Regions from separate parts of the Homo sapiens genome. Here region 1 is linked to region 2. A link means that fine-mapping ties the variant in region 2 to the expression of a gene that starts in the linked region. Tissue or cell type: whole blood. Region 2 holds a variant in brackets; the other region holds the start of a gene. All regions are shown on one strand. Distances are between the middles of the regions.

Region 1 (5,386 bases), 110 kb after region 2:
GCCTCAAATTCCTGGGCTCAAGTGATCCTCCTGCCTCCGCCTCCTAAGTAGCTGGGACTACAGGCGCATGTGCCATCACACCCAGCTAATTTTTTAATTTTTTGTAGAGAGAGGGTCTCATTATGTTTTCCAGGCTGGTCTTGAACTCCTGGTCTCAAGCAATCCTCCCACTTTGTCCTCCAGAGTGCTGGGATTACAGGTGTGAGCCATCATGCCTGGCTTATAAACCTCTTATGTGCCATTCACTGTGCTAGGTACTGGAGGGCAGAGATGAACATGACTTTGCCCCTGCCCTCAATATCTCAAGGTTTACTAGGGAAGTCAACCAGGTGATCTCAAGTGCAAAACTCACACAGTACAAGGGGAAAATGTAAAGGCAACAATTCATAAGTAGATGCTCTATCTCTATGCAGAACTGCAAGAAATACCAAAGCCTGATGTCAGGATTTACTTAGCACATGTAATTTGAGTTTTCTTACCAATGATTTAGGGGGAAGCTGAGACTTACTCCAGAGATCATGGAGTTTTCAGACTTTTTTCTGCTCCCAGCCAATCACAGGACTAGGAACACACCTCACGTGCAACATGTCAACCAGTCGATGAGTTCTCCCACGCTAGATAGAAAGAGGCTGGGTATATGGCGTTTGGGAAACAAAAACTGCAGCCTCTCCCTTGTCTACCATGAAATGGCTCTGCATACAGCCACTCTGCTCACTACAGAACATATAACCTGAAGGTTACTGGAGGACAGAGCAGGGTGAGGGCTGTGCTGCCATGGTAACAGTGCCATAGGATTTGGTGCCACACTGGAGATGGGGCACTCAGGGCACTTTCTGGCTACACACAGCTGGAAGATGTCTAGGAGCAGTGTTAGGCACATTGGTCCCCCCTGCTCAATACAAACCACCCTCACTTTGGGAAGTGATGAGGTTTTCTAGTTCCGATCTGGAGTGAGAATCAGACGGAGGCATATCATGGTATCCCAATCATCTAGTTCTGGAATTTCCCTAGAGGGTAGGGGATGCTGGTATAGTAAGGGATACATAAACACATTTATATGGGAAGAAGATCCAGAGGTTGGTACACTGGGGAGTCTCTGTCTCTGTCTCTGTCTCTCTTTCTCTCTTTCTCTCTCTGTCTCCCTCTCTCTCCCCGCCCAGTGCTCCAGAGGTACCACACTAGAGGAAAGAAATGAACTATATGCATCTTCTTACGTTATATAATCGGAGTATATATGTCAAAGGGATAGTCACTGGAACATTTTTCCCTCCTTATCTTCCCTCAACTTTTGTCAAAAATAGGTCTAGAACTTTCACACAATTATCCATCCTTATTTAAAATCAAAACCTGGATTGATCAGCTGATGGCTGCAGTTCTCACGTCTTTGCCCAGGTCTTCTGGCGTCTCTGAAGCACAACGTGTGACAATGGCACAAAAACGCAGGAAGTGACTGTTGAATGCACAGAGGTTCTGCAGCTTCCGTCCATTTTCACACAATTTCCATTTTAGATTCTGAGCAGTTCTCCCTCCCCATGCGCTATGAAATAGAAGGGTCTGGCTGAATCAGCCACTTGAAATTAGGTTTCTTCCCTGCAGGGGATTAGGAACCGAGGTGCGGTTCTTCTTCGCACTCCACACCACACCCCGCAACCCTAGAAATCAGGACTTTCCTGGAGAAAGACCCAGCAGGGACCCAGGACCCGCAGACGGTGCGGGGAACTGGTGCCTCTGCAAAGCCCAGCAATGCCCTTGACCAGGCCAGGAGAGGCGCGAGGCGAAGCAGAGTTGTCCCCGAGGCGTGTTGAGGCAGCTAGGGCAGGGCAGCGATTGCTTCGGAGGAGAAAGGGAAAGAAAGTCCCCTGGTCCCCGAAGTCTCCCAAGGTCAATTCCCAGGGGACTCCAAAGCAGCGACGGGGCTCTGAGATCTGGCAAGTTCTAGGAGTCGAGCGAGGGGAGCGAGTGTCTTACCTGGTCGGGCTGGCTGGTGTAGTTGAAAGAGTAGATGTTCTCGGTGCTGAGGTTCACCACCCCGCTGTAGACATGATCGAAATCGGCGCCCCTGGCAGCGTCGAAGGGGTCGCGGCGCGGTGCCGGGGGCTGCCTGGGGGATTTCGCCGGGTGCCCGGGCGACGCCGCCAGCAGGAGCCAGGGCAGCGCGCAGAGCAGCGCGAGCCGCAGGCAGCCGCGCATGGTGGGCACCGCGCCCGGGCTCGAAAGCGGAGCCACCCTGGGGAGGGGGCGAGCGCAGAGAGGGTCCTTCCAAAGCCCGGTGCAGGGCCAGGCGTCCGCTTCAGAGCCGAGCGGGTGATGCCTGGCGAACCCAGCCGGCCAGGGCTGGCAGCGTGCTGACGAAGGGCCGATCAAATACTGATGCTGCCGCCTGGGGTCTCCACTGGAGGTCACGGGTGGAGAGTAGGGCGGACTGGAGAAGTGGAGATGTGGGGCTGCTGATTTTCCTCCGGCTTCTAAGTCCCCCGTTTCTCATCGCCGAGAATCCCCCCACTTACCCAGCCAGAATTTAGACCGATCTCTTCTCCCTCAACCTCAATAACAGCAATAATAAAAAGGCATTGGAGTCATTAAAAAGAAATACCCGCTAGTCTCGAAAAGTCAACCTGACGCCACATCGAGGAGGAAATTCGGTCTGTTTCAAATACGTGTGCACCCTGGCTGCAGGAGAAGAAATAGAAAGCAAAAGAGCCCGTCCCCCAAGAGGGTGCGCGAGTTCGCTTTCCCAGGCTGCTACCTGCAGAGAACTCTTGCCTGTCTGAACGATAATTACTCTCTATTCTCCCCTCTCTAATAGAACCTCTCCTCAGACACCTGTTTTATTTCTTTATTACCTCCTACTCTCCATGGAGAGTCTCACGTCATCACGTTCTCTCCCTCACCATATGTGTATGTATGTAAATATGTACAGTTAAAAAAAAAAAGATATGGTAAAGAGAACAATTTCCAGCACTGCCTGAAGTCTGGTCCCGGAAGTTGTCAAAAAACGACTCAGACTAACTAGATTTATGCAGAAGGCATTTCTTTCCACCCCAGCCTCTTACCTACTTTACCATTGCAATGACTTCTTCCAGATTCTGAGAGAAACCCCAGGATTGTTTTTTTAAAGGCAGAAACCACAGCCTATCGTAAAAAGGAAATACTTTTCTGATAAAAATTAGGGGATTAGATTTAAAGAGTTAAAGAGGCAGGTAAGGAGCAGGGTGAGAATGGGGCCATCAGAAGACCTTGCAGAACATTGAACAATCACAATTTACGTGTGGAAGAGAACTCACTGTTTTATTTCAGCTTCATTACTGTATACTATAAAAGAATGTAATTGTGTTCAACCTGAAGGACCATTTAAAAAGAAGTCATTAAGAAGGAAAAGATCTTTTTCAAAAATTTAAGATTACAGATTAAAATCCTAGTCCTTGCCATCTTTAAAGAGATAGATTTGTTTTTGTTTTTACCTTGTCTAATTCCTTTAATTTCTTAAAACATCAAGAATGAATGCAATACATTTGTTGTAAAGTTTTCTGTGAAATCAGAAAACAATGCTGATGGAAGATTAAGTTAGTAGACTCCTTATTAGGACAATTTTCAGTTTTAAAGTTTTGAATGTTCTTGGCCAGGTGCAGTGGCTCATGCCTGTAATCCCAGCACTTTGGGAGGCTGAAGTGGGAGGTGGGCTAGCTTGAGGCCATGTGTTCATGACAAGTCTGGGCAACATGATGAAACCCCATCTCTACAAAAAATACAAAAATAGCTGGGCGTGGTGGTGCATGCCTGTCGTCCTAGCTACTTGGGAGTTGAGTTGGGAGGACTGCTTGAGTCCGGGAGGTCGAGGCTGCAATGAGCCGTGAACACCCCACTGCACCCCAGCTTGGATGACAGAGCAGGACCCTATCTCAAAAGGAAGAAAGGAAGGAAGGAAGAAGGAAGGAAGAAAGGAAGGAAGGAAGGAAGGAAGGAAAGAAAGAAATTTCTTGAAAATATATGGGTATATGGGCAAAAATACTAATTCAAAGGAGAGTCTGGGGGTAAAACTTCAAATAGAACTCACTGTTTTTGAGGAGCATAACGAAATAATTTCATCCAGAATTTGAATGACTTTAAACTGTTGTATTCAAAATATCTGTGCCTCTTTTCAAAGTTCAACAACATTTCATAAACTTGAAATCTACGAAGGTCCTGGAGGTTAGCTGGTGTGACCAGTTAAAGGAGTCTCTAGGATTATGGAGTTCTATTATGGCGTTCTTTTTAAACACTATAAGAGATGAGGAACTGGTTCTTTCACAAGTCAACACCTTCTTTTGGGGGCAAGTGTCTCATTATTAGAAAGACATTTCATATTCTTAGTTGAAATCTGCCTGTCTTCTACTCACTTGTACTAGTTCTGCCCTCTGGAGTCATAGGAATAAACCTAATACTTCTTCCACATGACAGACCTGTGGGTATTTAAATGGTGCTATGACCCTTCCTTCAAGATTTTATCTCAACTTTACGCAACTAAATTGGAAGCAAATGGAACAGATCCTTCATCATAGCATGAAACCCAAAATATTTATTTTAAAGCCATTTGTATGGATTATCTATACCTAACAATTTGAGTTATATATTACAAGTCACTCTGTAATATTATCTAATCCTTATTCTAGCCAAAAGTCATTCAGTGACCTCAAGTAATTAACCTCTCAGGATCACAAGGTTGTTGTAAGGATAAAAGGGAGAATGATGTATTTGAAAGTACATTAAAAAGTTTAAAGTGTTGAATGAACAAATACTGTTATGGTGTGACTGCTAGTTCAATAGCTAAAAAATAAAATGTGGTCCATTAGGTAGGTGGTTTTTTTCTTTATTTTTAAAAGGAATTTTATTTTAAATTTTTGTGGGTACTTAGTAGGTGTATATATGTATGGAGTATATGAGATATTTTGATACAGGCATGCAATGCATAATAATCACATCATGGAAAACGAGATATCCATCACCTCAAGCATTTATCCATAATGTTACAAACAACCCAATTATACTCTTTTAGTGATTTTTAAATTTACAATTAAATTATTATTGACTATAGCCTGTTGTGCAATCAAATACTACACCTTATTCATTCCATTTTTTGGTATCCATTATCCATCCCCACCTTCCTCCCCCAGCTCTCCCACTACCCTTCCCAGCCTCTGGTAACCATCCTTCTACTCTCTTTCTCCATGAGTTCAATTGTTTTGATTTTAAAGGCAGTTTTTTTTTTTTAATATCTACAATGTCAGGATTCTACTGTGAGAGACTAAATATGCAAGTGGGCAATGGCCAGACCATAAATAGCAATACAACTAACTCTGACCCACAGTTTCTGCAGCAATCAGCTCAGGAAACAAAAACACTTTAGCAG
Region 2 (5,386 bases):
AGGGAGGAGTACTTCAAAAGTATTGTTATATTCTATTGCACTGGGTAGCAGATGCTCAGATGTTGATCTCATTTATGCCTGAAGTCTTTGTTCTATGAATGTCTAAAATATATCCTAATGTTTTAAAAGGTAAAATGGCCAGGCACGGTAGCTCACACCTGTAATCCCAGCACTTCGGGAGGCTAAGGCGGGTGGGTCACTTGAGGTCAGGGGTTCGAGATCAGCCTGTCCAACATGGTGAAACCCCATCTCTACTAAAAATACAAAAATTATTGTATTTTTACAATACAATTGGGTGTGGTGGCATATGCCTGTAATCCCAGCTACTGGGGAGACTGAGGCAGGAGAATTGCTTGAACTTGGGAGGCAGAAGTTGCAGTGAGCCAAGATTGTACCACTGCACTCCAGCCTGGGCGACAGAGCAAGACTCTGTCTCAAAACAAATAAATAAAAATAAAAGGTAAAATGAGGACCTTAGACACCACTTATTCTCACATATACTCCAGGAAATTAAAGCTCACAATATTTTCCTTGACCCGTCTTCTTGGGACTTCAGATTAAAAGTCGGTATTCTGACTGTGAAGGGCTAACTTCCTACTATTGCATACCACCTCCCATTCAGATGTTATAGATGGAAGATACATTTTGATTATACAAGAAGCCCTAATATGCCATGAAAGACATATAAATCATAAAGATGCAAACACTATGCTTAAATTTAATCTCCCTAAAAGTTATAGTGTAGTTTTTGGAATTAACAGCAATTACAAATATAAGAGAACTATCTGAACAAAATTCCAGAGAAATTCCATTTCTAGGTAAGCTGAGATCTCTGGTCTTTTTTCCCCTGGGGATGTTGGATGAGTCTGGGCTGAAAAGGCAGAGTGAAAGCACCCATAGTTTCATGAAGCTTAGGAGACAACGTCCTGCTAGAGGGAGCAGGTGTCATTCTCAAGACATTTAAAACCAGAGGCAAACTGAATCTAACTAAAGCTACATCCCAGCTCTCATACAGCTCAATACTCTCTGCCTAACAAAGGAAACATGAACCCTCTCTGGTGGAAAATACCATCCACCTTAATTTCTAACGTTCTTTTATATACAATCCCCAGAAAATACATACAATGTCTAGGAAATGTGGCCAAAAAGCAGAAAGAAAAGCGGATTGTATAAGTAGACCCACAGACAATCAAGATGCACAGACAAGGGCTTTAAAATAACTATAAAAATATGTTAAAATGGAAAAATTTTAAAATACGTTAAAAATAGAGAATTATAATTTATAAAAAACGAAATGGAACAGAAAACAGTAGTTGCTGGGGGAAGGTGGAAGGGTTGACTACAAAGAGGAACAAATTTTGGGGGGAGATGTTTTATATCTTGTGTGGTTAAAAGTCACAGAATTGTACTCTGTCAGATGGATTTTGGATGTAAGTTATACTTCAATAAACCTGACAAATAATGGAAAAAAAGAATAGAATGAACATCTAGAGCTGGAAAAGTGAAATTAGGAAATTCTTTTTTTTTTTTTTTTTTTTGAGATGGAGTCTCGCTCTGTCACCCTGGCTGGAGTGCAGTGGTGCAATCTTGGCTCACTGCAAGCTCTGCCTCTGGGGTTCATGCCATTCTCCTGCCTCAGCCTTCCGAGTAGCTGGGACTACAGGCACCCGCCACCACGCCTGGCTAATTTTTTTTGTATTTTTAGTAGAGACAGGGTTTCACCATGTTAGCCAGGATGGTCTCGATCTCCTGACCTCGTAATCCACCTGCCTCAGCCTCCCAAAGTGCTGGGGTTACAGACATGAGCCACCACACCCAGCCAGGAAATTCTTAAATAAATTTGTAGTAAAGTACACATATCAGTCAATAGGAAATCAAACCAAAGCACAGAGAAAAAAAAAGGAATAGAAAAGAGTGATCAAAATGCAAGATATGTGTGGGGCACTGTCAAAATATCCAACTTATGTATCACTAGAGCTTCAAACAGAGAGGAGAGAGAATTGGACAGAAGTAATATTTGATGGGTGAAAATGTTCAAAACTGATAAATATATTAACTATAGATTCTAGATGTTTGGTGAACCCACAAGTAGGATAAATGTAAAGAAAGTTACACCTATACATCATAAGCAGACATCTGAACTCTAAAGATAAAGGACTTTGGGAGGTCAAGGCAGGCAGATCACTTGAGGTCAGGAGTTCGAGACCAGCCTGGCCAACATGGTGAAACCCTGTCTCTACTAAAAATACAGAAATTAGCCAGGCATGGTCGTGGGCACCTGTAATCCCAGCTACTTGGCCCAGCTTGGGTGACAGAGTATGATTCCATGTCCAAAAAAGAAAAAAAAAAAAAGAAAATTTGAAAGCACCTGGGTGATAAAGATACATTGCCTACAAAGAAGCAACAATAGGACTGCTGACTTTATAACAAAAATGATGGAAGCCAGGAGACAGTGGAATGGCATCTTAAAAGTAAAGGACAAAAAAAAAAAAAAAAAACCTACTGACATGGAATTCTATAAATTATTAAAATTCCCTAAAAACTAAAAGAGAAACACATATTCATACAAACAAAAATTGAGCAATATTTTGTTTTACCAGTAGACCAGCACTACAAGAAATTTTAAAGGAAGTTATTTGGTTTGCTGGAAAATGATCCCAGATGAAAGAAGTGAAGAGGGCTTGAAAGGGTAAATTATTGGCAAATATAAAAGAATATTGAGATTTAAAACAATAACAATGTCTTGTAAGGCTTATGCAAATGCAGAAGTAAAATATATTACAATAATAAGACAAAGTGAGAGGATAAATGAAGTAAAACTGGTGTGGATATTTTATTGCTGAGAAGTTGTAGAAAATGATAATTAAAGGTAGATGGTAATAAATCAA[G/T]GTTCTGTATTATAATTTCAAAAGAATAATAAAGTAGGGCAAAACTGAAATGCTAATAGATAAGATAAAATAGAGAAGGTAAAAGGGAATAACAAAATACTGGATTATTCAATGTATTTAATCAAATAATTAAATATTTAAGGACACACTTTTAAATAAGTCAGAAAAAATGAATTAAAAGAACAAATAGAAAAATAACAGAAAAATGATGGACTTACAACCATCTAGATCAGTATATTATAGATTGAAATAGCCATTTAAAATTTTAAAAGTAGACTGAATTACAAAAATTAGAATCAACTATATGTTGTTTACAAAATGCACAAAAAACCCACCTTAATTATAAGGAAACAGATTAAAAGTAAAAGGATGGAAAAAGATATGTAAGATATGTAAATTCTAATAAAAAGAAAGCTAATATGGCTATAGTAAAATCAGATTATTATGGCCTGACTTTGCTGCTGGGTCTGCTGTTCCCACCCCTTTAAAGCTGTTGGATGTCAAACATGCTACATAAGAACCAGAGGCCACAAGTAATTCAAACGTTTATTCCTCATTCAGGACTACACAAACTTATGAAGTGTGAAGAGTCCCTGGGTGAGGTAGCCCACCACCTGAAAGAAGTCTCTCTAATGTTTGGGTAGAGTGTGGGGGAGATAAGAGGGAAGAGAGAGAGATAGAGAGAGAGAAAGAGAGAGAGAGAGAGAGAGAGAGAGACCTGTGTGATGTAGCTAAAGCATTAATCTGAGGGAAATGTATAGCTTTAAATGCCTACGTAAAAAAAGAGAATTTGAAAAAATCAGTGATTTCAGTTTCCATCTCCAGAAGCTGGAAAAATAGTAACTTAAGTCCAATGTAAGTCAAAGGAAAAGTATAATAGAGCAGAAATCAATAAAATACAAAGCAGATAGCTGACAGAGAAAATCAACAGACAAAAAGTTAATACTTAGAAAAGGCTAAAAAAGAAAAAAGAGGTCAAACGCGATGGCTCACGTCTATAATTCTAGCATGGCAAAACCCTGTCTCTACAAAAAATACAAAAATTAGTTCGGTGTGGCGGTGCACTCCTGTAGTTGCAGCTACCCAGGAGGTTGAGGTGGGAGAATCATTTGACCCTGAGCGGTGGAGATTGCAGTGAGCTGAGATTGCGCAACTGCACTCCAGCCTGGGTGACAGAATGGTACCCTGTCTCAAAAAAAGAAAAAAAAAGACCAGGAAAAAAGAAGATAAATATGAATGATCAATATCATGAATGTAAAAGAGGACATCACAAAACATTATACAGAAATTAAAAACATAAAATATTATTTACAACTTTATGCCAATAATATTGACAACTTAGAGGAAATTGACAAAATTATTGAAAAATGCAACTTATCAAAATAGATACAAGAAGAATAGAAAATCTTTATAGTCTTATACCTACTGATGAAATGGAATCTATTATTTAAAATCTTCCTACTACATATTGTAGGATTCCATTTCTATGAAAGTCTAGAATAGGCAAATCTATAGAGACAGAAAGCAGATTAGTAGGTATCTAGATACCTGGGGGCTTTGGAGGAAAATGAGGAATGACTGTTAATGGGTGTGGAATTTCTTTTGGGGGTGGTGAAAACGTTTTAAAATTAATCATGGTAATGTTGCACAACTCTGTGAATTGACTAAAAGCTGTTGAACTCTATGCTTTAAATGGGCGAATTTTATGGTGAATTATATCTCAGTAAAGTTGGTTTTTAAAAAAATCTTCCTACAATGAAAATTTCAAGCTCAAGTGATTTCAGGGGTAAATTCCTCTAACTATCAAAGGAAGAAGTACACCAATCTACTCAAATTCATAAACTAGAGAAAGAGGGAACACTTCTAAACTTGCTTTAGGAAGTTAACATGACCTCAATATCAAAATTTACATTACAGTAAAAGAAAATTATAGGCCCATATCCTGAATAAACATAAGTATGAAAATGCTAAACAAAATGTCAGCAAATTGAATCTAGTGATATAGGAAAAGAATAGTACATCATCATCATATGGTGTTTATTTCAGGAAAGCTAAGTTGTTTTAGCACTTTAAAATCAATTTTTCAACTCATTGTATTAGTAGAATAAAGGAACAAAGCATATAGTAACTCAAACAGTTAATAAAATTCAGCATCCATTTATGGCAAAAATGCTAAACAAAATTGAAAGAGAAACATTCTCAATATGATAAGGCACATCTACAAAAAAACCAAAACCAAAACCCCACAGCTGTCACACTTAATGATATCCCCCTGAAGTTAGAAACAAGACAAGAATGATAATTATTCAACATTTTAGTGGTATTCCCTGCCAGTGTATTACTAAGCAATAAAGCTACCCACCAAAAACTATAAAATGTTGCTGGGATAAATTAAAGGAGCTCAAAAGAAGCAGAAAGGGCTGGACGCAGTGGCTCATGCCTGTAATCTCAGCACTTTGGGAGGCTGAGGCGGGCAGATCACGAGGTCAGGAGATCGA

The links. PIP is the estimated chance that this variant, and not a neighbour inherited with it, causes the effect. A credible set is the group of variants that fine-mapping cannot tell apart.
Region 1: it holds the start of SIDT1, and the variant in region 2 is the best candidate, but not a certain one, in a credible set for the expression of SIDT1 in whole blood (INTERVAL, PIP 0.74).

Annotation. Positions count from the first base shown.
Region 1 is chr3:113,529,826-113,535,211 of GRCh38, reverse strand. It overlaps SIDT1 (SID1 transmembrane family member 1), which reads right to left and starts at 2,657. Exons shown (of 25, transcript NM_017699.3): 1 at 1,969-2,657. The coding sequence starts at 2,190. RefSeq lists enhancers at 1,766-1,895, 2,366-2,695, 2,836-3,025, 3,046-3,265 and a silencer at 2,046-2,095.
Region 2 is chr3:113,642,418-113,647,803 of GRCh38, reverse strand. No RefSeq gene overlaps it. Among named protein-coding and RNA genes, the nearest start is that of MIR4446, 50 kb to the right of the region's middle. The variant G/T (reference allele first, on the strand shown) is at 2,889.